3 separate regions of the Homo sapiens genome follow, and all the other regions are linked to region 3. The links come from fine-mapping of genetic effects on gene expression. A gene starts in region 3. Each other region holds a variant in brackets. All regions are shown on one strand. Distances are between the middles of the regions. Region 1 overlaps BCR (BCR activator of RhoGEF and GTPase). Region 2 overlaps BCR (BCR activator of RhoGEF and GTPase). Region 3 holds the start of BCR (BCR activator of RhoGEF and GTPase).

Evidence for each region.
Region 1: its variant is fine-mapped to the expression of BCR in whole blood (TOPMed, PIP above 0.99). The same link has a PIP of 0.9 or more in uterus.
Region 2: its variant is fine-mapped to the expression of BCR in thyroid (GTEx, PIP 0.95).

The regions. Positions count from the first base shown.
Region 1 is chr22:23,304,444-23,309,443 of GRCh38, reverse strand. BCR (BCR activator of RhoGEF and GTPase) reads right to left here. Exons shown (of 23, transcript NM_004327.4): 17 at 1-20. Among named protein-coding and RNA genes, the nearest start is that of LINC02556, 20 kb to the left of the region's middle. The variant A/C (reference allele first, on the strand shown) is at 2,718.
Region 2 is chr22:23,312,740-23,322,354 of GRCh38, reverse strand. BCR (BCR activator of RhoGEF and GTPase) reads right to left here. Exons shown (of 23, transcript NM_004327.4): 20 at 9,334-9,468; 21 at 8,282-8,387; 22 at 7,641-7,803; 23 at 4,318-6,922. The coding sequence ends at 6,833. It also overlaps the pseudogene POM121L11P. Among named protein-coding and RNA genes, the nearest start is that of LINC02556, 9.1 kb to the left of the region's middle. RefSeq lists a silencer at 6,569-6,688 and enhancers at 6,439-6,733, 7,870-8,371. The variant C/T (reference allele first, on the strand shown) is at 6,776.
Region 3 is chr22:23,172,173-23,182,414 of GRCh38, reverse strand. It overlaps BCR (BCR activator of RhoGEF and GTPase), which reads right to left and starts at 1,906. Exons shown (of 23, transcript NM_004327.4): 1 at 176-1,906. The coding sequence starts at 1,454. It also overlaps a transcript of RSPH14 not described here and the pseudogene BCRP8. RefSeq lists silencers at 1,376-1,455, 1,476-1,745, 1,816-2,055, 5,460-5,559 and enhancers at 2,176-2,986, 5,947-6,046, 8,139-8,433, 8,419-8,468.

The DNA of each region.
Region 1 (5,000 bases), 130 kb before region 3:
TGCAGGGCCTGCGGGTCCAGCTGAAAGGAAGGAGTCATGATTGGCAGAGGCCCTGGGGTCTGTTCAGAGGCCCCACGGGGCAGCAGCCCACACCCGCCACTTCCCCAACCCTTAGTCAGAGGCAGAGCCCGACTGCGGCCAGCACCTCCATCCAGAGGCCAACAGAGGTAGAGTAAGGAGGGGCCTGCCAGACACCCCTGGAACCCAGGGCCCCACTGCTCCCAGAGCCCTGCTGCCTGGGGTCCCCACCCCCTCCTCCCTCTGCCCCGCCCAGTTGGGAGCTGATGTGCAGGCTGGCAGGCTCTCTCCATCCGGCTTCCATCACCACGGGTGCTATGTGGAGCTCAGTGAAAGGTGAGCTGTCCAGCAGCAACTTCAGTAACAACTCCTGGGGGCCTGGCATCCACAGCTGCTGTCTGGGGAATTGTGGACACTGTTCTCCCCCTGCACCATGAACAGCTTGTGGCGGGAGGAGCCTGCAGGCCACACCAGTCCCATGGTTCAGAATCAGGCCCAGAAGGACCCAGAAACAAGCCCTAAATCAAGCAGCTGATGAGGGGGCCGGGAGGAAGCCCCTCTGTGACCCCTCTAACTTCTACCCCCACCCGGCACTATCCAGACAGCTAGCCTGCAGGAGCTTGTCCTTAATGTCACCCGAACACAGTCTGTCCTGGTATGTAACACCCTGTCATGACCAAGCCACATGTCCCCCATCCGTGAAGCCTCTGTCTCCCGTTTTATGGGGAGCACGTTCTATGTCAGCGGTTCCTGGGTATGCCAAGATCACTGGCTGGGCTGGGTGAATGAGCAGTACCATCTTGTTAAAAATACACCTCCCTGGCCAGGTGCGGTGGCTCACGCCTGTAATCCCAGCACTTTGAGAGGCTGAGGTGGGCGGATCACGAGGTCGGGAGGTTGAGACCATCCTGGCTAACATGGTGAAACCCTGTCCCTACTAAAAATACAACAAATTAGCTGGGCGTGGTGGTGGGCGTCTGTAGTCCCAGCTACTTGGGAGGCTGAGGCAGGAGAATGGTGTGAACTCAGGAGGTGGAGGTTGCAGTGAGCCAAGATGGCGCCACTGCACTCCAGCCTGGGCGACACAGCAAGACTTCGTCTCAAAAATAAAAGCAAAAACAAAAAAAACACCTCCCTGGGTTCCACCTGCAGAGAACTGACTCATAATCTGAGTGGGACCTGGGATTTACACAGCTAGAAACCCCAGGTAGTTCTGGAGTGAAGCCAGGTCACGGAGCCACCGTCTGACTCCATAGAAGGCCACTGCATCTGGCCTTGTGTTTCCATCCCTTGATTCAGGTGATGGTTCACTTCAGCCACAAGGCAAGCTGCCTAACAGCAGGGACCACACCTCATGATGTCTGCACACATTCACATGCGTGCACATATACATACACACACACGACGGTGCTGAGCACAGTGCCAGGCCTAGAGAGGGGCTGAGGACAGGCATCATTTCCACTGCAAGGGACCCTAGCGGCTACAGCCACCTGGGCCTTCTGCAGGTGAAGTGGCCAGAAAATAAGAAGCTCTGGAGCAGGTCAAGGAGCCCAGCCAGCTGCCCCCCTACTTCACAGGTGTGTGCACCTGGGCCTCCCTCCCTGCACCTGCTCAGCACGAAGGCTCACCACAGGCACACCTGGGGGTTGACCCCTTCTCACCTCCCCTTCTAGGTCCTACTGGTTAACGTTTCCCAAGGCTCTGAACTGTGCAGCCAGAGTGGCACAGAGAAGCAAAGGGCGGCGGGACGTCTCCCACCGGGGGCCATGCGGCCACAGGCTCTCATTCCGCACCTGGCCCTGAAGGTCGTCAGAGGCCACACTCCAGGCCTCAGGGACCCCACCCTGAGAAGCAGCATCTGTGAGCAGGGAGCGGTCAGTCAGAACCACACATAAAAAGGAAACTCTCAAGTGGCACTTTCCCCCGGAGTGAACCCTAAGCAGAGGCAGGAGAGGACAACATGAGGGATGCGGACAGAGTGCGCTTTCTCTGGAAAGGAGGAGTTTATACCACTGCTGGGAGCTTTAAAAAATGGAAACCCTGCCTGTGATATCAGCACTTTGAAAGGCCGAGGCAGGAGGATCACTTGAGCCCATGAGTTTAAGACCAGCCTGGGCAATATAGTGAGACCCTGTCTCTATAAAAAAAAAATTTTCAAAAGCATTAGCCAAGCATGGTGGCATGTGCCTGCAGTCCCAACTGCTCGGGAGGCTGAGGTGGGGGCAACACTTGAGGCTAGAAGGTGGAGACTGCTGTGAGCCATGATCATGCCATTGCACTCCAGCCTGCGCAACAAAGCGAGAGACCCTGGCTCTACTAACCAACCAAGTAACTGGAAACACAGAAACATGTTAAGCAGGAGACATTCTTACCTTTCCTTCAAAGAACAGCCATCACTGGGCCCCTCTCCCCTTGAAAACCCAGAACAGGCAGAAGCAGCTAACAAGCAACCCAGAGTCCAGGTAAGAAGAGACAGAAAGAGAAGCTGTCCAGACATCAGCGGCTGCCCCTCAAAGCCCCCCTGGAACCACGGCCCACAGGTGCTTTTCAGCAGAGGCCGCCCGGCTCCGGCCCGCCCGGCTGGGGTGGAAGTACCAAAGGAGGCCCTGCATCATGGCCAGGGTGGATGGTGACTCTTGCATGCTTGGCCTTGCTGCTCTGGGAAGCTGGTGGGGCTAAACGAGAGCTTCCAGCCTCCA[A/C]GGCCTTTTGACCAGGCTTTGAGGGAAACCCCACCCCGCAGTCTGGCTGGCCAAGGTCAAAGCTTCCCATCACCTCCGGGTTCCACTTTTTTGTGTGTGTGTGGGAAGAACACCCTCCCACCCCAGCCTATTGGTTACGGGAATTTCCAACGTGTCTCCATCTCCTCTAAAGCCCAGAAAAGCTGAGCTTCCTTCTCAAGTGGCTAGTTTCCTGTTGCCCAAGTTTGGAGACTGAGTAAAGTATGACTGGTCAGCCTGCCTTGTGCTGGAAGCAATCCAGACTGTCCAAAATCTGCACCACTCCCAGCAGGTAACCCCAATAATCAAATGCAGTGCCTCTGATGGACCCAGGGTGGAGGACACCCTGCTCAGGTCCTGCTCCCCCAGAGCTAGCTGGCTGAGCAATGTGCAGCCCTGGGTGGGGCTCCAGCCAGCGTCCACTCCCCAGCATTGGTGGTGTCCAGCGCCCACTCCAACCTGGTACTGATGCTGCCAGGAGGGCTCTTTATCGGGCCCCTCTCTGTGACTCCCAGTGACTGAAGACCAGGGTGTTGGCCTCCAGGCACTGGCTCTCACGGCGGTCCTGACTGGCAGCTCCAGTGGGAAAGGCTGTCCCAAGGCTGGCTCTGTTCCAAAGAACAGAGTGTGCGCCGCAGAGCGGAAGCCGTATAAAGAATAGCATGATAATGAGGCCTGTGCCTCAGCTCAGCCAATCCCAAACATTGCTCAAGGCTGGTACGCTCTCTCGTGCAGTTATTTAAAGCACCAGAGAAGTAAACAAGCAAAAGACTGGGGTTTGGAAAAACAGATGACCAAGGGGGAAACAGTTTTCCCTTAAGGGAAAAACCGAGGCACTCCGGATGCTGTCCAGGGTCCCCCTGGGTTGCAAGGTCTTGGTGAGGAACATGCCTGCTGCCTGGCCGGGGACTGGGCAGGCAGGGGTCTGTCTGCTCACATGCAGTGGTCTCAGGAGGATGGACCAGGTTGCTGCTCCTCTCCCCCTGGACTGGGTAAGGCAGGAGCCTTGAAAGAATGACTATGGTCAGCGGGCCTGGCAGATGGTGGCCTAGAGGTCTGCCTAGAAAACTATCGTGCACATCCATCCCAGGGAAGTGGTGGGGTGGGGGCTGAGGGAGGCCGAAGCCCAACTGGGGCAGGTGCTGTGTGCTGCCCTGAAGCATCACTGACCACTTTGCATGGTGGCTCTGCTGGGGGCCCAGCACTGCCCTGCTTGCTTTGTAGTCAGTGTGGCTGGATTGAGTCACCAATGGGCAGCCGGAGGACATCCTCTCACCCACCCTCAGCAGGGGCAGGGAGGGGGCTATGAGTAAACCTTCCAAAGGAGGAAATGCTTGTTCACTTAGCTCCTTGTAGACAACAGCTTCCTTCACGCCCATCGTCACCAGCCTGGATGGTCCAGCAGGGCAACCCCAGTTGTTCCTGTCTGGGCCCCATGTGTCTGCACTATAACCTACTCCCGGGGGTGGGTCTTTGCTGAGACCACCAGAGAACCTCTGTGTTCACCAGGAGAGAGATTACAGGCCTCCTGCTGTAGTCTATGACCACAATCTGCTCTCCTGAGATCCATCCTGCACCTTTTTTTTTTTTTTTTTAAGGCGGAGTCTCACTCTGTTGCCCAGGCTGGAGTGCAGTGGCGAGATCTCGGCTGACTGCAACCTCTGCCTCCTGGCTTCAAACCATTCTCTTGCCTCAGCCCCTGAGGAGCTGGGATTACAGGCACCTGCCACCATGCCCGGTTAATTTTTGTATTTTTAGTAGAGACGAGGTTTCACCATGTTGGTCAGGCTGGTCTTGAACTCCTGACCTAAAGCAATCCACCCAACTTGGCCTCCTAAAGTGCTGGGATTACAGGCGTAAGCCACCGCGCCTGGCCTCTATCCCACTTTTAACTCTTTGCTTCTCTTCTCTGATCCCAACCAGTCTCTAACATCACTTCAAAAGGAACACACCCTTCTCCCTTAGGATACACTATAACCAGCATCGGTGAGGATGTAGAGAAATGGGCTTTCATACATGGCCACTGGGGATGTAAGATGGTGCAGCTACTCCAGACAACGTAGGGCAGTTCCCCAAATAGTCACCTTGTTGCACAGCCCAGCAATCTTACTAGGTGTTTACTCAGTGAATGAAAACATACGTCCATATAGAGACTGGTACCAAGGACATGTTCGTGGCTGCATCAACCTTAACAGCCCAAACTAGAAATGATCCAAGTGTCTGTCAAATAGTAAATGCAGAAATAAAAACATGTTATATGTATGC
Region 2 (9,615 bases), 140 kb before region 3:
ACCCCAACTTGGTCATGATACATGTTTAATCCATTGCTGGATTATTTGCTAATATTTTATTTAGCATTTTTGCATATATGTCCATAAGAAGTTAGTCTATACTTTTGCCTGCTTGTACTATTTATGTCTGGTTTGGTTTTAAGCTTATATTAAATTCACAATGAGTTGGGGAGAATTCCATTTGCTTCTTTTTCTGTAAGGTTATGTAGGCCGGGGTCGTGTGTGGTGGCTTATGTCTGTAATCCCAGCACTTTGGGAGGCCAAGGCGGGCGAATCACGAGGACAGGGGTCGAGACCACCCTGGCTAACACGGTGAAACCCCGTCTCTACTGAAAATACAAAAAATTAGCCAGGTGTGGTGGCGGGCGCCTGTAGTCTCAGCTACTCGGGAGGCTGAGGCAGCAGAATGGCCTGAACTCGGGAGGCGGAGCTTGCAGTGAGCCGAGATCGCGCCACTGCACTCCAGCCTGGACGACAGAGCGAGACTCCGTCTCAAAAAAAAAAAAAAAAATTATGTAGGCCGCGCACTGTGGGTCGTGCTTGTAATCCTAGCACATTGGGAGGCCGAGGCAGGTGGATTACCTGAGGTCAGGTGTCCGAGAACACCCTGGCTAACATGGTGAAACCCCGTCTCTACTAAAAATACAAAAGATTAGCCAGGCACACCTGTAATCCTAGCTACTGTGGAGGCTGAGGGAGGAGAACCGCTTGAACCTGGGAGGCGGAGTTTGCGGTGAGCAGAGATCATGCCACTGCACTCCAGTCTGGGCTACAGAGCGAGACTTCCTCTCAAAAATAAATAAATAAATAAATTATTTTAAAAAAATTCTGTAGAAGATAAAGACTTTCTGTTCTTCTTAATGTTTGCTGAACTTATCTATAAAATCATCTGGGCCAGGTGCTTTTCTTTGGTTTTGTTTTTTGTGAGATTTTTGACTGGATGGGATACAGATTTTAAAATAAACATTCAATTCCTTTAATGGTTCTAGATCTAGACAAGGTTTTCTGTTTCTTCCTACTTCGTTTTTATGAAGTTATATTTTTCTTTTGAGCCGGAGTTTCTCTGTTGTCCAGGCTAGACTGCAGTCACCCCATCTTGGCTCACTGCAACCTCCGCCTCCCAGGTTCAAGTGATTCTCCCGCCTCAGGCTCCCGAGTAGCTGGGACTACAGGCAAACGTCAAAACGCCCGGCTAATTTTTGTATTTTTAGTAGAGATGGAGTTTTGCCATATTGGTCAGGCTGGTCTCGAACTCCTGACCTCAGGTGATCGACCTGTCTTAGCCTCCCAAAGTGCTAGGATTACAGGTGTACATTTATTTATTTGAGATGGAATCTTGCTCTGTATTTATTAATTTATTTATTTGAGATGGAGTCTTGCTCCATCGCCCAGGCTAGAGTGCAGTGGTGTAATCTTGGCTCACTGCACCCTCTGCCTTCCAGGTTCAAGCGATTCTCCTGCCTCAGTGTCCCAAGTAGCTGGGATTACAGGTGCCTGCCACCACAGCTGGCTAATTTTTGTATTTTTAGTAGAGACAGTGTTTCACCATCTTGGCCAGGCTCGTCTCGGGCTCCTGACCTCATGAACCACCTGCCTCAGCCTCCCAAAGTGTTGGGATTACAGGCCTAAGGCACATGCTCGGCCGTATTTATTTATTTAATTATTTAGAGACAAAGTCTTGCTCTGTCACCCAGGCTGGAGTGCAGTGGCGCCATCTCAGCTCACTGCAGCCTCCGCCTCCGAGGTTTAAGCGATTCTCATGCCTCAGCCTCCTGAGTAACTGGGACTACAGGTACTCACCACCACGCAGGGATATTTTTTTCTGTTTTTTTGTAGAGACACGGTTTCACCATGTTGGCCAGGCTGGTCTCGAACTCCTGACCTTAGGTGATCTGACAGCCTCGTCCTCTCAAAGTACTGGGATTACAGGCATGAGCCACTGCGCCCGGCCTCTCACTACGTTTAAGTGATGCCATGGCTCATGCCTGTAATCCTAGCACTTTGGGAGGCCAAGGCAGGTGGATCACCTGAGGTCAGGAGTTCGACACGAGCCTGGCCAACATGAGGAAACCCCGTCTCTAGTAAAAATACAAAAATTAGTCAGGCGTGGTGGTACAAGCCTGTAGGCCCAGCTACTTGGAAGGCTGAGGCAGGAGAATCACTTTAACCGGGAGGCAGAGGTTGCAGTGAGCCAATATCATTCCACTGCACTCCAGCTTGGGTGACAGAGTGAGACACCGTCTCAAAAAAAAAAGAAAAAAAGAAAGAAAAAAATGTGATGCCGGGGCATCTCAGCCTCAATACCTGCATGAGCACAGTCATGTCCAGGCCAGGGCTGCTGGTCGAGGTCTGGCCCCATCTCTTCTAGAAGAAAGGGAGTAAGCTTGCAGGGAGGCTGGGGGACAAGATCCCAGGATCTCAGCCTCCGCTCATGGATCAGCTCTGAGACCCTGACTGAGCTGGGGGTGCTCTGTGTGCACTGGTTTCCCCAGCTGTCAAGTAAAGGGATTGGATGAGGAAGTCTTGTCAAGGTGGAATGATCTCAGATTTGGGGCAGCAGTGAATGATCCCGCTCCCTGGGCCCATGCCAGTGGCCTGGCCTCGGCTGAACACAGCCCCAACACTCTGGAATGGGGATGAGGGGGAAGTCAGCTCTTGCTCTTAGTAAGAGAGATGCAATAGGGCTCTGTGGCTGAGCTGGGTGCCTTGCCTCACACCTGTAATCCCAACCTTTGAGAGGCTGAGGCGGGAGGATTGCTTGAGGCTGGGAATTTTGAGAATAGCCTGGACAACATAGCCAGACCCCATGTCTACAAAATAATAAGAAAACACACAGCTATAGTCCAAGCTACTTGGCAGGCTGAGGCAGGAAGGTCCCTTGTGTCCGGGAATTGGAGGCTGCATTGAGCTATAATCGCACCACTGCACTCCAGCTTGGGTGACAAAGTGAGACCCTGTCTCTAAAAGAAAAAAATATCGGCCTGTGAGCATGGGTTTGATCTTCAAACAGGACCCGGAGGGTAGGGACAGACAGTGCTGTCACCCTTAGGTGCTGAACACTCAGAAACGGGCCAGCGGCAGTCCTTTCCTCACCTGCAGACACCAGATTGGGCAGAACAGCACGTGGCACTTGCAGCTCTTGCAGTGAGGGCAGAACCCAGTGTCAACCCTTCTGCCTGTGGGAGGGGCTGCTGAGGCCTGCGGAGAGGCCAGGGTGGAGGCTCGTCCCCTTGTCCAGCCCTTGGCGTGGTCTCCACCAGGTCCCCAGTCCACCAGTGCAGGGCTCCCCTGAGCCTGCTGCTGCCACGGGCCCTGTCTCTACCCAGGACGTCCCCCCACCCTCGCAGTGTCAGGGAAATGATCATGGTGGCGGTGACACTCCGCAGGCAGGGCTGCTGAGAGAAGCTGAGAAGGGTCACACTGCAGGCAGGCGCCCGTGTGACAAGCCCCTCTCACCCCGAGAGAGCTGACCAGGCAGCTCACGAGCAGAGCCACATCCCGGGAGTCCGAGAAAGGTCCTGGCTGGGCTCAGCCACCTCACTGGCCACGGGCAGCCTTTGTCGTGTGAGCCTTGCTCTCCTGGGGAGGCTCAGGCTGACAGCTGTGGGCATTGCCGAGGGTAACCTGTGGCCCAGTGTATATGGCCGGCTCTCCTCAAGCTGCATTCATTCAAGTAGGACCCAGGGTGCATGCCCATCTCCAGCCCAGGGCAGCTCCCCTGTAAGCTGGGTGAGCTACTGAAGCCAAGGCGGGAGGCAGCTGACAACACCCACGGCCCATGCGGAGGTGGTGGAAAGGCTGGACTCAGCAGCAACACCAAATCCCGGACCAGGCAGAAACCACCCAAGACTGAGGGGCTCGTGCCAGAGCGGTGGCCACAGGTAAGAACCCGGGCCCAGGGTGGCAGGAATCCTCCATGTCCCAGGGCTTAGCATAGCAAAGGAAGACCAGCCGGGTCACCCTGGTGGCCATCTGTCCCTGTCCCACCTGCAGAGTCAGAACAGCCTCTCCCCAGTGGGGATCATCTCTCTCTGCCAAAGCAACAGCGGTCCCTGCCCCAACCAGACTACCCCACTCAGTGGGGTTACGGATGCTGCTCCAGCATCCTAACACTGCCCAGCTGGTGCCTGCCTGTGCTCACCCACACCCCCCAGGCCGGCCTTCCCTGCAGCCTGGGCTTGGCCACCTTGGCCTGATTGAGCACTGAGGCCTCCTGGGCACCCAGCCCTATCACTGCACCTGCTGCTTCCAGCCCCACCCCACCGGCTCAGGGGTTCTTCCCAGCGGCGCTGATCATGAAGTCAACATGCACGCAAGTCGTCTCAGGAAACTTTTTAATGAAAGTGTCGGCCACGGTGGTGTGTAGGTGGCTGAGCTCAGATTGCAGCTGCTAAGACACCAGCCACTTACCAAGAGAAAGCCAGGCTGCTTCAAACCCAGGGCCCAAGGCAAAAAAGCATCACTTCCGGCCGGGGAGTCTGGAAGCCACGCCTTGTGGGAGGTCACACTGGCATCTAGGCCTTCGCCTGCATTGCAGAAGGAGAGCCAGGTCCCCCTCCTGGAGAACGCTGCGTTCCCCAGCCCCACACCGGCTTTGCCACCACACAGGCTGTTGAGGCAGGAGGTGGGTAAGACGTAGCTGTAGACCCAAAGCAACCACCAGCCCTGGGACCCTGCGGGAGAGGAGCACTTTTAGAACATGGAAAAGTGTGGTCATCCCATCATTAGACAGCACACATCCTACATAAATAAAAAGTCGTATGGGGAAGGAGGTTGGGGAGGGAATAAAAAATTGGCACAGACATTGATAGACTGGTTTCCAGTTTCAAGGTAACAGATGCACATCATGAGACCAGAGGAGGCAGAGACAAGGCTGGATTTGGCTTTTCTAAGCAACACGTGTTCCTGCGCAGGGCTGAATGGTCGCTGAGACAGAGATGGAAGCCAGGACAAGGGAGCCCACCGGGCCCAGATAGGTACAGAGAGCAGAGGCTCCTGTTCTGTCCTCGCCACCCACGACGGTGACACTGCTTGTAAATGGTGGCTGTGCTCTCCCAGCAAGAAAAAAGCACAACTAAATCCACACTGCACACAGACGCAGACAGAAAGCCTTCAAGTGGCTGTTTTCTGCTCCCTGCCTTGCCAGGTCCACAAGCAGAGAGGAGTGTCAGGCGCATGGCCCCACTGTCAGGCTCCCTAGTGAGCTGCGGGTTCAGCAGGAGCTGCCCACTGACACACAGGGGACACCCACTCCTCCCACCTTGGGAGCGGGTGCCAGACAGAGCCGCACTGGGTGCTGGTGTCATCCAGGGACCCCACACACTTCCTTAAATGTGATCCTGCTTCCCTCTGGGCAGCTGCATCCTCTCCTCCTGCAGGACCGTGTGGAAACTTGGCTCTCAGTTTGCTCTCCCTTCTCTCCTCTGCCTGCCCCAAGCCCCTCTTTCTAAAAAAGTGATGGAATATTCATGGGGTTATTTCTTGAAAATACTTGGCGGTCTCCATGCTTCTGTTTTCTTTGAGCCAGGTGGTCAGGAGGGTTTACAAAGAATGCCTGGGCTCCCCCGCAGGTGTCGGCAGATGGGGTAGCGAATGGTCCTGTGCCTCCACCTGCTCCGGGAGGGAGTCTCCCGTCTCTAGGCCTGGCCCCTTCCTAACCCTCCACGTATCCTGTTCTCCAGAGACTTCAGAACCCACTCCTGAGAACAGCGGAGCCAGGCGCTTAGAGGAAGACCAAATGCTGCCAGGACACGGATTGTCCAGGGATTACATTCCAGCATCTTATTAGGTATCTGGATCTGTTCGGAAAAAAATTAGAAACTATGTATAAAACTTACAAATATTCAAGTATCAAAAGGTTATTTAGGATGAAAGTTTTAAAACAAGTCATCAGCAAGCTGCTGCCACCAAGTGGAGACTTATACAAAAGTTGAGCGAGTCCACTGAGCTGAGAGGACAGAAATGAAGTCACCTGTGCTGGGGCAGGGGCAGGGACACTGGGGGCAGGGAGTGTGTGGGCAGAGAAGCCAGAGAAGTCCAGGCCTGTGGAAGCCAAACAGGAGAGCGTGGGCCGGAAGGGCGGTCAGGATCGGGGGACGAGGTCGCTCTCCCTGGAGAACGAACCCTAAAGTGCGTAGCCTGGGGTTCCCTCCCTGGGGGTCCTGTCCCCTGACATTTCACAGGCCTTCTGAGCTGCCTTCCAAGGAGGACTAACATGGCAACAAAAGACCCATTTCTGCACAAAAATCCTTCTGGAAAGAAAAAGAAAGCCAAGAATGGAGTCAAAACGCTACCCAGTGCTGACTAAGCCTCTCAAACCCTGTTAGAAGTGGAGTGTGGTTTCTAAGTCAGGGAAATGGAAGAGGCCCCACCCACACAGGGACAGGGCCACGGCCCCCACAGGATGAAGCAGCAGCGTTTATTCAAGATACAACAGTGAGGGAATCCAGTCACGTTCCCTTCTCCCCAGAGAGGGCGCATCTTGACAAGTGATCCAGTAGAAATCTTTTAGACTCTAAGTTAAGTTCATAAAAACCACTCCCTTCACCCTGTCTCCCAGGGCCAGGCCTGGACTCCGAGATGAACTGGCTTGGGGCGCCCTCAGGTGGCCACATAAAAAACCACAGTCTGAGGCCAGCCTGGGGCTCCCAGACCTGGGCGGGATCTTTCCAGGCCACCTGTCCTTCGGCTTTGGGTCGCTGTCTCTTGGCAGATGGCCCAACACTTGGGGGTGGCCCAAGGACACCTCAGGAAGGTTCCCGCTCTACGGATGGCC[C/T]GATTAGCCAGAGGTTTCCAGGCCATCTGTCCGCCTCCAGGAGATGGACTGGGACCTTTAGACTTCGGTGGAGAACAGGATGCTCTGTCTCTTGCTGTCCGGGGCAGGGATGGCCTCCAGCTGCAGGAAGTACAGCAGCACCTGGACCTGCCCGGGCAGAGTAGGGAAGAGAAGAGTGGCTCAGAGCGGGGCTCACAGCTGCTGGTGGGAGGTCTTTGGGGCCCAAGCCTCCAAGTCCATCTCAGGTGCTGGGGACCCCTGCTGGTGTCATGAACCCCTTACAGTGAGATGGGGGTGGGGTGGGGTCCTGACAAGGCATGACTTGTTGGGTGGGGGGTGGTTATTTATTTTAGAGATGCACAGGGCCTTGCTCTGTCCCCCAGGCTGGAGTACAGTGGCTCCATCATGGATCACTGCAGCCTCTAACTCCTGGGCTCAAGAAATCCTCCTGTGTCAGCCTCCCAGATACCTAGGATTACAGATGTGTGCCACAATGCCTGGCTAATTTTTCTTTTTATTTTTTCTAGAGATGGGGTTTGCCACATTGCCCAGACTGGTTTCAAACACCTGGGATTGGTTATCCTGCCTTGGCCTCCCAAAGTGCTGGGATTACAGGCATGAGCCACCACACCCGAACACTTGAGGTAGTTTTAAGCTTCCAGCAAAGTGCACTAGCAGGACCAGGAGGTGGCCTGGGCCCCCACTATCACTCCCATCCATGCAGACCTAGGCAAGTCCCTCTCTGTGAATGTTGGCCACACCACATACAATGCAAGTAAGAAGATGGGCAGGACTGGGGGTGGGGCAGGCAGAGGCCACCTCTGTCAGGTCAGGGTTGCATGGGCTGGAGCCTGTCTTCCCATACCTGGGACATGACCTCCAAGGACCAGCTGTCAGTCATGGTGATAGGCTGGCTGGGGTTGGCAGGGAGCTTGCTCTCCTTCTCGGAGGGCCGGAGCAGCGTGGGGCCAAAGACCGTGGCGAGGTTGTGCAGGGACATCTTATTGACTGCCTCCTTCTCTGCCACCCTGTAGAGGACCAAAGCAGCGGGTGCTGTTTCAACGCCACCCCCAGGAGAGAGGCAGAGGGGCTGGGCTGTGCTGGAGTTCTCAGGAAGGGAGTGACCTCGACCCTGGCTGTGCTGCAAGCTGACTCCAGCCCTGGTACTTCTGGGTCTCAGTGGCCCAGGACAAGGAGCCAGCTCTGGGCTGGTGGGGAGGTCTCCTACTTGATGTGACTCGGAGGGAAGAGGGGGGTCCAAGTGCACTGCTGGCCACGGCCAAAGCTCTGAGCTCTTTTTTAAGGCCACAGTGCAGAGAGAGGAGGGTGGCAAAGAAGAGAGGCTGGGGCAGGGGTGGCAGTGGCACTAGTCGCCAAAGGCAGTGAGTGACTGCAGACAAGGGTCAGGAGAAAAGGTCCTCGGTGTTGGGGGTCTAGTGGGAGCAGAGGGGCACTCTGCGGCCTGGGGACCTGGAGCCCTGGGCTGCCATGGGAGAGCTGGGCTACCTTTTCAGGTGGTCCAGAAGGAAAAGGAAGGTGAGCAGGTTGGCCTCCGGCAGGGACAGCAGCAGGTTGAGCATGCAGCTCTCCTTTGCAACCGGGTCTGAAAGAGCTGCAGAAGGCGGTGGGTTACTCCTTGGGGTCACAACGAGCCAGAGACCTCTCCCGAGGTGTTCACATGGAGCACCTGGGGCTTGTGTCCCTGCACAGCCCAGGCTCGTCATCATCCTCAGTCTCACAGCTCTGGCCCCCATTGAGGACCCTGTGAGGGGCACCTGTGTGGGGTGTGAACCACCTGAACGCCTTTTCTCTACCTCGCAGGGGTCAGCAGCACCCGGCAAACAGCAGCAGGAGGAGCCGCTAGAGCAGCTGCTCATGGGCAGAGCTGCCCTTGGACAACTCCTGCCACCACCCCCTCCCCAGAGGAGCCCAAGGCAGGGGAGGCTCAGCATGGAATGAAACAGGGGAGTGAGGAACACAAGGAGGTGGGAAGTGGGAGGGTCCCAGCCCCACCAAGTACGCAGAGACCCCCTCGTCGTCCTGGACACCACAGGGGCACCTGCAGGCTGGGAGACCAGGTCCTCTGTGCATGGGCCCGGGAGGCAGACCTGCCCTAAGGGTGATGCAGAGGCCACAGGTACTGCACACACCAGCACCCACTCTAGACATCAGCCTCCAGGTTGACTAAGGGTCAGGTCATGTTTGAAACCATGCTTGGCTGGACCAGGACCCATGGCAAGAGCACCCAGGCACCCTCCTTCAGCCCTGGTCTGCAGGAAGGAGGACAGCAGACTTTAGGACCCCACAGCACAGCAGTGCTGACTATTTCAGCCTCTTGGTCTCCTTGAGGAGTAGGGACAGGGAGCCCTCTAGGGATGGGCAAGGCCTTCCAGGACAGGCTCGGTTCTGGTCCCCTGCTTTTTGAGGTTGGGTTAAAATGCCGACCATGGCAGAGGGGGCACAGCTTGGGTTCCCACACCTCACTTTTCACAGCCTCCAAGGGCAGCAGTGCACGTGGAGGAGACGTCTCCCATGAGGCCAAGGCCTCCAGTGCTCACCGATGCCCTCTGCGAAGTTGGGGTAGAACTCGTCAGTGAAGAGGGGCTCGGGCAGCTCACGGAAGTACAGCTTCAGCGTGCCTGCGATGGCGTTCACGTCCATCTCGCTCATCATCACCGACACGTCCTTGTTATCTGGAAAGAGCACGGAAATGCAGCGGCCTCCTTGAGGATCCCGAGTGAGTCTCCCACCATCCCTGCCTTGGCTAAAGCACTGTCCCTGCCATGCTGACCACTGTGCGGGTCCCTCCTGGGCTTTGAGCAGCTCATCTGACTCCTCCC
Region 3 (10,242 bases):
GAAGGAGGAGGGGATGGAGTTTGTTCGGGTGCAGGATCCGCGTGAACCACAAGTGCACCTGATACACTCAAAACTATCCACTCCTCCCTCCCAACTTCTGTTTTGTATCCCCTACTCGTCTATGGTTTTCCTCCCCCGTGCAGGTGTGCCCACGCACGTGGCGTGAGGAACTCACCTGCGTCTCCATGGAAGGCGCCCTCGCCATCGTTGGGCCAGATCTGCCCGGTCTTGCGGACGCCCACGATGGTGGCCTCGGACACGACAACCGGGCAGTGCCGGTGCCGCTTATGGCACTGCGGCGTGGGGGGACTGCTGCTGTCGAAGGACTGTTGCGAGTTCTGCGAGGGAGAGCGGCTTTTGTCCCGGAACATGCGGTAGGTGGTGGGGCTTGGGGACACGCGGCTGGACTGGCCAGAGGAGAAGTCCTCCTCGCTGGAGGTGAGGTTCTCATTGGAGCTGCAGTCCGGGGTATAGCCGCCTCCGCAATCCTCAAAACTCCGGGGGGAGTAGGACCTGCGGGGCCAGGTAAGGCGCTTCTCCTGCTCAGAGGTGCTCTGGCTGCGCAGGAGCGGGCCCTTGCCCTCCCCTTCCATCATGCCCCCGACGTAGATGCTCTGGTAGGGCTGGTACTCCAGGGGCGGCCAAGGGGGCCTGCTACCGCCATTGGCGTCGATCAGGTTGTCCTTCAGGAAGCGGGGGTTCAACTCGGCGTCCTCGTAGTCGCCGTCGACGCCGCAGCTGCTCTCCGAGGAGCGTCCCCGGTAAGGGGGCCTGGATGCATCCCCCACGCTCGAGCCCGCGCCGTGCTGGGACTTTTTGCGCTCCATCTGCATGGCCTGGCTGCCCAGGGAGCTGATGCGGTCCGACACCTCTTTGTCGTTGACCTTCACCAGGCCGCGCTCGTGGTGAAACTCGACGTTCACGTAGAAGGGCTTCTCGGCGTCCGCCCCGGGCTGGCCATGGCCCTTGCGGATCCGCTCGAAGTTGGACCTGAGCGCCGCCACGCTGGCGGGGGGTCCCCGGTCGTCCCGTTCCCCCGACGCGGCTGCCCCGGGCCTGCGGGCGGTCCCGGGCCTGGCCTTACCCGGAGAACCCTCGCCGTCGGGCCGGGCCTCGGGCTCCTCGGCGGGCGGCGGGTCGGCTCCGTCGGCGGGCGCTGGCTGCGGGCGCGACGCGGACGCTCGGGGCTCGGAGGCGCCGTCGGGGGCCTGCGCCGCGCGCCGGAAGCCCCATCGCTGCCGGTCATAGCTCTTCTTTTCCTTGGCCAGCAACGTCTGCAGGTAGATCATGCGGAAGCGCTCCTGGTTCACCTCCTGCTCCAGGCGCCGAATGGAGGCCTTGCAGCGCTCCAGCTCCTGCTCGATGTCGCCCACTGAGCGCAGCTCCATGCGCGGGGGCTCTGAGTCCGGGAACTGCGCCTTCCACGCCTCCGCGAAGCCCACCGGGTCCACCATGGCGCGGCCGGCCTTACCTGCGCCGCCGGGCTGCGCGCGGGGCCCGTCTCAGCGGCGGCGCGGCGCCTCGCCAGCCCGGCCCCGGGCGCCGGGCGGCCCCCATGGCCCGCGCGGCGGCGGCGGCGGCGAACAATGCCCGCCCACTCCCTGGTGGCAGGTGAGGCGGAGCGGGGCGCTCGGCGCGCGGGGCGGGGCGCGCCGGGGGGAAGGGCGCGGGCTGCGCGCGCCGCTATTGTGTGCGGGGCTCCTCCGCACGGCGAGGCGCGGGCGCTGCTCTCCGCTCCGCCAGGCCGCCGCCAGACTCTGGCCACGGCCCGCGCGCTCCTCGCCTCTCGCTTCCGCACCGCCCCACAGCCCCGCCGCCGCCGTGCCGCCGCCGCCGCCGCCGCCTCCTCGGACGCTAAGCTCAGCCAGCCGGCTCTCGCCGCACTCCCGCCCGGCCCGCACTCTGCGCCGCAGGAAGGGGAGGGCCGGGGGGAGGTGGCCGCGGCGCGGATGACGGAGCCAGGCGGGCCTCTTAAAGGGGCCGCGCCGTGGGCACAGGGCGGGGGGGCCCCCTGGAGGCGGCTCCCCCATCGAGCCGCCACCCTCCCCCCGTCCCTGTGCCTTTTGGGAAACTGAGGCCCTAACAACAGCGAATTGGACTGTGCAACTCGCAGCCCAGGGGTCCCCCGTAAAAAAGACACCGGACTCCCTGGTCCATAAAGACCTTTCCAATACAGAGGTCTGGGCCAGTTCTGCAGTCCTGGAACAGGAACACTTGGCTCCCCTCCGGCCAGGAGGACTTCTCCGGCCAGTCCAGCCGCGTGTCCCCAAGCCCCACCACCTACCTCATGTTCCGGGACAAGAGCTGCTCTCTCTGGCAGAACTCGCAGCAGTCCTCCGACAGAAGCAACCTCCCCCCTCTGCCCCTACCACGCCGCAGTGCCATAAGCGTCACCGGCACTGCCCAGTCGTCGTGTCAGAGGCCACCATCGTGGGCATCTGCAAGACCAGGCAGATCTGGCCCAACGATGCGGAGGGCACCTTCCATGGAGACGCAGGTAAGTTCCTCACACCTCACAGCCTGGCCTCTCACCAGCCTCAGGGCTGGGCACACTAGGGACCACCCAGCAGGGCCCAACTCACAGAGAGGCCAGGACCAGGCAGGTCACCCCGCAAGGCAGGGAGGGCCAGGCTGAGTAACCAATGCCAGCACCCTTGTTTCAGCGGGCCTCTCACGTTGTGGATCTGCTGTGGGTGGCTGCCACACGGGTTTGTCACAGCAGGACCACATGATGGATGATAAATAGGGATTTCTCCCTCAGGTCACTCAATACCCACACCTGCCTTCCTGTGTGCTGAGCCATGTGTTTGTCCCCTGGCCTCTCTTGAGCTCCAGAGGTCAATGTAGTTTTTCCAGGACGACCTGACTCAGAACTTCCCTGATTAGCCTCCCTCTAAGGGGGCGGCCAACCTGCACTGAGGTTCACAGGGCTGGGTGGAAGACAGCCCAGAGCAGGGAGTGAAACAAAACCTTTGATGGTTCTCTGGGGACACAGAGATCTGAGACACAGTGGAGAGCACTCTGCAGGGACTCTGATGGGCACAAACTGAAAATACCCAAACCAGCCCGCTGGGTTGGGGGAAAAGGAAACAGGATTTGGCAAATGAATTACTGGGCTTGAGTCCTGACCACCTCTCCCTCTCTGCCTCAGTTTCCTTGAAGTGAGAAGCACATCTGCCTCCAAGTGCTGTTGTCCCTGTGTGGATGTTAGGGATTATCATGCCCTCCTCCCAATGCCAGCGTCATCTGGAGCAGATACTTTGAAGTCCAATCTAAAGGACTGAGCCCAGGCTAGTAGCCAGGCCAGCCCTGCTTGGGTTCAGGGCTTCCTGCCGACTCCTGGCTGTGTGACCTCAGCAGTGTCTCTCTCAGCCTCTCTGAGCCTCAGTTTTGTCATCTGTTCTTCATGTGCCCAATCCTGCTTCCTTTTCCCCTGACCCGGCAGGCTGGTTTGGGTATTTTAATTTTGTGCTCATCAGACTCCCTGCTCTTTGCCCTGTCTCAGATTTCCAGGCTTCCCTAGAGAACCATCAAAGATTTTGTTTCACTCCCTGCTCTGAGCTGTCCTGTCTTCCACCCAGTCCTGTGGGCCACGGTACAAAATGTTGAGAGCATCCTGCATAAAATGCCCAGATGGGGCAAACATAAAACACAACCTGATAAATGGTGTGTAGGGGTCGATTTCGTGATTGCCTGTTAATATTAGTGCCCCTGGAGAACATTCCTGCCCTGGAAAACCCATGGGCCCCAGTTTCTAGGCTGGGTGGGCGGTGCGCAGCTCACTGCTGCCCTCTGCAGGCCTTGCTAACCTCCTGCCATCCTGGTCCCTTGGACCCAGCGGACCTTCTCATCCCCTTCCCATCAGGCTGCAAATAGCCCATTTTGCATGTGAGGAAACTGAGATGCAAATGATGCCCTGGCCACTAAAGGGGCTGGAATCCCAGTAGTGCCATACTGAGCAGTGCTCTCATCCTCAGTGGCCTATTTTTTTTTTTTTTTGAGACGGAGTCTCACACTGTTGCCCAGGCTGGAGTGCAGTGGAGTGATCTCTGCTCACCGCAACCTCTGCCTCCTGGGTTCAAGTGATTCTGCTGCCTCAGCCTCCCAAGTAGCTGGAATTACAGGCGCCTGCCATCACGCCCAGCTAGTTTTTTGTATTTTTAGTAGAGACGGGGTTTCACTGTGTTGGCCAGGCTGGTCTTGAACTCCTGACCTCGTGATCTGCCCGCCTTGGCCTCCTGTAGTGCTGGAATTACAGGTGTGAGCCACTGCACCCAGCCCTCAATGGCCTCTTCTTTAAAATGGGTATGATAAAGGCAGGCACAGTGGCCCATGCCTGTAATCCTGGTGTTTTGGGAGGCCGAGGCAGGAGTATCGCTTGAGCCCAGGAGTTCAAGACCAGCCTGGGCAACATAGTGAGACTCCATCTCTACAAAAAAATTTAAAAATTAGCCTGGCATGGTGCCTCGTGCCTGTAGTTCTACCTGCTCAGGAGGCTGGGGTGGGAGGATTGCACTGAGCCTGGGAATTTGAGGCTTCAGTGAGCTAGGATCACGCCACTGCACTCCAGCCTGGGTAACAGAGCAAGACCCTGTCTCTAAGTAAACTCTGAAGCTGTTTAGTTTGAGTTTGCATGCTCTGTTCTCTTGGCATAGCAAATGGCTTTTTGTTAGGCACAAGGACACGTCCAGATAGTGGCTTTCTCCCTTGTGGGACAGCCTCTTCTGGCCCCAAGGACACTGTTCTCTCCTCAGGACTTCCCTGAAAGCACCCCTATCCTGAGCCTCTGGGCCTTTCCTGTAGAGTTTTCTTATCATCCATCCCTCCCTAGGGAGGAATGCAGCAGGGCATGGGCATGGGCATGGGGTTTAGACACACATAACACTCTGTAATCCCCCACTCAGTGTCTGTTCCAACTAGATCTAAACTCTGCAAGGTCACAGACCTGTTTGTCTTGTTCCCCTATGTCTCTCATATAGTGAGCTCAGAGTAAGTGCTCAACCAGGTCTGGTGGAATGAGGAACCAGATGTGTGCATGGCCTGGAGGGCAGATAGGTCACCGAGAGCGATGCCTGTGTATGGGGGAGGAAGTGATAAGGCATTCACAGCCCGGCTATAGCAAAGGTGTGTGTGTCCTGTGGGAGAAGGCACAGTTCGGGGAAAGGCTTGCCAGGGGAGGTGATGCCTGAGCTGGTCCTAAGGACAAGGACCAGGTAGGCAAAGGACAAGGAGGCTTCAAAGTTCTGTTTGAGGAGCAGCCAGGTTGGGAGATGAGGCTGGTGTAGGCAGTAGGAAGTGGGATCAGAGGTGAGGCAGGGCCTTGTAGGCCTGCACAAAGTTTGGGTTTTATTCTAAATGCAAGGAAAAGCTGCTCAAAGGTTCTAGACCTGCACTGTCCGATAGAACTTGCCAGTACCATGGGCATGTTCTGTAATCTGTGCTGCACAATGTGGCAGCCACGAGCTGCCCCGTGTGATTACTGAGCATCTGAAACGTGGCTGGGGCAGCTGAAGAACTGAATGTTTGGTTTCGTGTTAGTGAGTTTCAATGGCCACCGTGGCTGCTGTACTCAACCGCACAGGAAGCGGGGTGACTTGCTGGGGTCTGTTGCATGGAAGGTTGGGCGTGGGAGGTGGGAGTAGGGGGAGTGGTTGGGGATTGTGGCAATTGTTTATGAGGAAGGCATTGGTGACCCAGAATAGGGCAGAAGCAAGGTACCCCAGAGAAGGGGTTAGAATTCAGGAGCATTCTGGAAGTAAAACTCATGGGACTTGTAGATGGAGTGGGTGTGGGGAATGAGGGATGTTGGGGTGATCAGACCCAACACCAGGCCGTGGGGGCGACAAAGTCTGGCGGAGTCAAAGGAGTGAGAAAAGGCAAGAGAGAAAGTGGGACCAGGGGGCCAACGCTAGTATAGAGGCTGCAAAGGCCTCTAGCCCTAGGAGCCTATGCTATTTATTGGTGATCAAACAAAGAAACAGGTGGTGAGGATGTGGGGATTGAAAGGAAGCGGTGTATCAAGCAAATGAGCTACAGCTGTGACAGTTTAGCATTTTCTTTGAAACATATGGCTACTTGAGATAATGAGAGTGCTAGAAGGAAGGAGCCAGCAAGTCTAGCAGACATGCAAGCCCTGCCTCAGCTTCTCTCCCCACACCCAGCTTTTCCCCAACAGAGGGAGGCCAGCTCATGGGGATGACTTTGGGATGGTGACTGCAACAGGCAAGCAGAGGTGCCTGCACAGGGCTTCAGGTCCGCATAGCCCATCCATGAGCAGGCATCAGGCAGAGGGTGACCCTGTTGCACCAAGGAGCAATGAAGACCTCAGAGAGAAAGTGGAGTGTTGCCAGTGAATCGATGTTGTTTGTTGCCACGGGGCTGGAGACTCTCCCCCTGCCTGCGTGAGGCTGGGTGGAGAAGGGACAGTTACTGGACTAGGGGGGAAGTAGAGGCAGAGGGACTGAGAAGGGACTGGCCAGGGAGATGATGGGGACCCTGGAGTCTGAGCGGAGAAGACTCAGTGAAGAAGGCAGAGCCTCATGCTGATAGCTGCTGTTCCCTCAGTGGGAAGGATGCTAGCTGAGTCTGGCATCATGAGGCCGGCAGGGCAGAGGTGGGCCCTGGAACTTGGCTGCAGAAGCTGGAGGCTGGATGGGCCCTGAGCGCTACCCCAGGAGCCTTCTGAGGGGTTCAGCAGGAGGAGGGGGCTTCACCAAGGGCTCCACAGCTGTCTATGAGCAGTGGGTGACATTTATTTTCTAAATCATCATGCTTTTCTAAATTCTTCATAATAAAACGCCTATCTATGGCTCACGCCTGTAATCCCAGCACTTTGGGAGGCTAGGCGGGCGGGTCACTTGAGGTCAGGAGTTTAAGATCAGACTGGCCAATATGGTGAAACCCTGTCTCTACCAAAAATATAAAAATTAGCTGGGCATGGTGACTCCAGAGGCGGAGGCTGGAGAATTGCTTGGATCCAGTAGGCGGAGGTTGCAGTGAGGGGAGATTACGCCACTGCACTCCAGCCTGGGTGATGGAGTGAGACTCTGTCTCAAGAAAAAACAAACAAACAAGCCAACCCACCTATCTTTTGTAATTTAAAAAAAAATAGATTTTTTGCCAAGTGCCGTGGCTGACGCCTGTAATCCCAGCACTTTGGGAGGCCGAGGCGGGCAGATCATGAGGTCAGGATATCGAGACCATTCTGGCTAACACGGTGAAACCCCGACTCTACTAAAAATACAAAAACAAATTAGCCGGGTGTGGTGGTGGGCGTCTGTAGTCCCAGCTACTCGGAGGCTGAGGCAGGAGAATGGCGTGAACCCAGGAGGCGGAGCTTGTAGTGAGCCAAGATTGCGTCACTGCACTCCAGCCTGGGTGACAGAGCGAGACTCTGTCTGAAAAAAAAAAAAAATTTTTTTTTTACAATCTTTTTTTCTTTTTTTTTGAGACGGAGTTTTGCTCTTGTTGCCCAGGCTGCAGTGCAATGGCGTGATCTCAGCTCACCACAACCTCCGCTTCCCGGTTCAAGCAATTCTCCTGCCTCAGCCTCCCGAGTAGCTGGGATTACAGGCATGCACCACCATTCCTGGCTAATTTTGTATTTTTAGTAGAAACGGGGTTTCTCCATGTTGGTCAGGCTGGTTGCGAACTCCCAACCTCAGGGGATCCACCTGCCTCAGCCTCCCAAAGTACTGGGATTACAGGCGTGAGCCACCACACTCAGCTTTTTTTTTTTTTACAACTTTATTGAAGTATAATTGAAGTGTCATAAACTGCGCATAAGGAGTGCGATTTGATGAGTGTTGACATCTGTGTATACTTTGAAGCCATCGCCACAATTAGATAACAAGTATTTCCAGCATCCCCAATCCATATTATGTTTTTAAATCTCGAAACTAAAATATAACAGAGAAGTGGGGTTTTTGGTGATGTTCCCCCTCAATTTCCCTTGTTCTCTGAGTGTGGTTACATGATTCTATTATTTATTTATTTACTTATATATTTTTTGAGATGGGGGTCTCGCTCTGTGACCCATGCTGGAGTGCATTATTGCAATCCTAGCTCACTGCAGCCTTAGACGCCTGGGCTTAAGTGATCCTCCTAACTCAGCTCCCCGAAGTGCTGGGATTACAGGCGTGAGCCACAGTGCCCAGCCTAGAAGTAATTTTAAAATCAAAACACACACACACACCGTCACACACCCTCAGCAGCAGCCCAAGTGGTTCCTAGGCCCCAAGCAAAAGTTCCAGCAAACCCCTCCCGGAGGCCACCCTTTCCCTTTACTGGAAGAACAGGCTGGGACCCAACCGCCCCCTCTGCTGGAGACAATGCAGAACTTCTCATGCCTCAAAGCCCTGGGGATGGAAAGCATGCAGGTGTCAGTCAACAGATGAAAGAATAGAGGCTGGGCACAGTGGCTCACACCTGTAATCCCAGCACTTTGGGAGGCCGAGGAGGGTGGATCATTTGAGGTCAGGAGTTCAAGACCAGCCTGACCAACATGGCGAAACCCTGTCTCTACTAAAAATATGAAAAAGTTAGCCTGGTGTGGTGGCGCATGCCTGTAGTCCCAGCTACTCAGGAGGCTGAGGCAAGAGAATCGCTGGAACCCAGGAGATGGACGTTTGCAGTGAGCCAAGATCGTGCTGCTGCACTCCAGCCTAGGTGACAGAGCGAGACTCCGTCTCAAAATAAATAAATAGTAAATAATAACGGAGAAGAAGTTTGAGACCAGCCTGGGCACCATAGTGAGACCCCATCTCTAAAAAAAAAAAACAAAAAACAAAAAACCAAAAATAAAAAAATTACCTGAGCATTGTGGCATGTGTCTGTAGTCCCAGCTACTCTGGAGGCTGAGGTGGAAGGATTGCTTGAGCCAGGGAGGTTGAAGTTTTAGTGAGCTATGATCATACCCCTGCACTCCAGCCTGGGCGACAGAGTGAGACCCTGTCTCAAATTAAATAAATAAATGAAAAGAAGGCCAGGCACAGTGGCTGATGCCTGTAATCTCAGAACTTTGGGAGGCCGAGGCGGGCGGCTCACGAGGTCAGGAGATCGAGATCATCCTGGCTAACATGTTGAAACCCCATCTCTGCTAAAAATACAAAAAATTAGCTGGGCATGGTGGCAGGCACCTGTAGTCCCAGCTATTTGGGAGGCTGAGGCAGGAGAATGGCGTGAACCTGGAAGGCGGAGCTTGCAGTGAGCGGAGATCGCGCCACTGCACTCCAGCCTGGGTGACAGAGCGAGACTCCGTCTCAAAGAAAAAAAAGAAAAAAAGAAAGAAAGAAACTGTGGTACATCCAGACAATGGAATATTAATCAGCACTAAAAAGAAAGGAGCTGACAAGCCATGGAAAAACATGGAGGAAACTTAAATGCCTATTACCATATGAAAAGACACTATTCTGAAAAGGCTACATACTGTATGATTCCAAATATATGACATTCTTTTTTTTTTTTTAGATGCAGTCTCGTTCTGTACCCCAGGCTGGAGTGCAGTGGGGCGATCTCGGCTCACTGCAAGTTCCGCCTCCTGGGTTCATGCCATTCTCCTGCCTCAGCCTCCCGAGTAGCTGGGACTACAGGCGCCTGCCACCACACCCGGCTAATTTTTTGTATTTTTAGTAGAGATGGGGTTTCACCGTGTTAGCCAGGATGGTCTCGATCTCCTGACCTCACAATCCACCCTGCCTCGGCCTCCCAAAGTGCTGGGATTAAAGGTGTGAGCCACCGTGCCCAGTCTTTTTTTTTTTTTTTGAGACGGATTCTTGCTCCGCCTCCTGGGTTCATACCATTTCCTGCCTCAGCCTCCCAAGTAGCTGGGACTACAGGCACCCACTACCGCGCCTGGCTAATTTTTTGTATTTTTTTAGTAGAGATGGGGTTTCACCATGGTCTTGATCTCCTGACCTCGTGATCTGCCCGCCTCGGCCTCCCAAAGTGCTGGGATTACAGGCTGAGCCACTGCACCTGGCCTTTTTTTTTTTTTTTTTTGAGACAGAATCTCGCTCTGTCACCCAGGCTGGAGTACAATGGTGTGATCTTGGCTCACAGCAACCTCCACCTCCCGGATTCAAGCAGTTCTCCCACCTCAGCCTCCCAAGTAGCTGGGACTATACGCGCACCATCACTATAGGCAGAGATTGTAGTGAGCCATGATAGTGCCACTGCACTCCAGAGGGGCAACAGAACCAGACGCTGTCTGAAAAAGAAAAAAATGAAATGAAATATTGTACT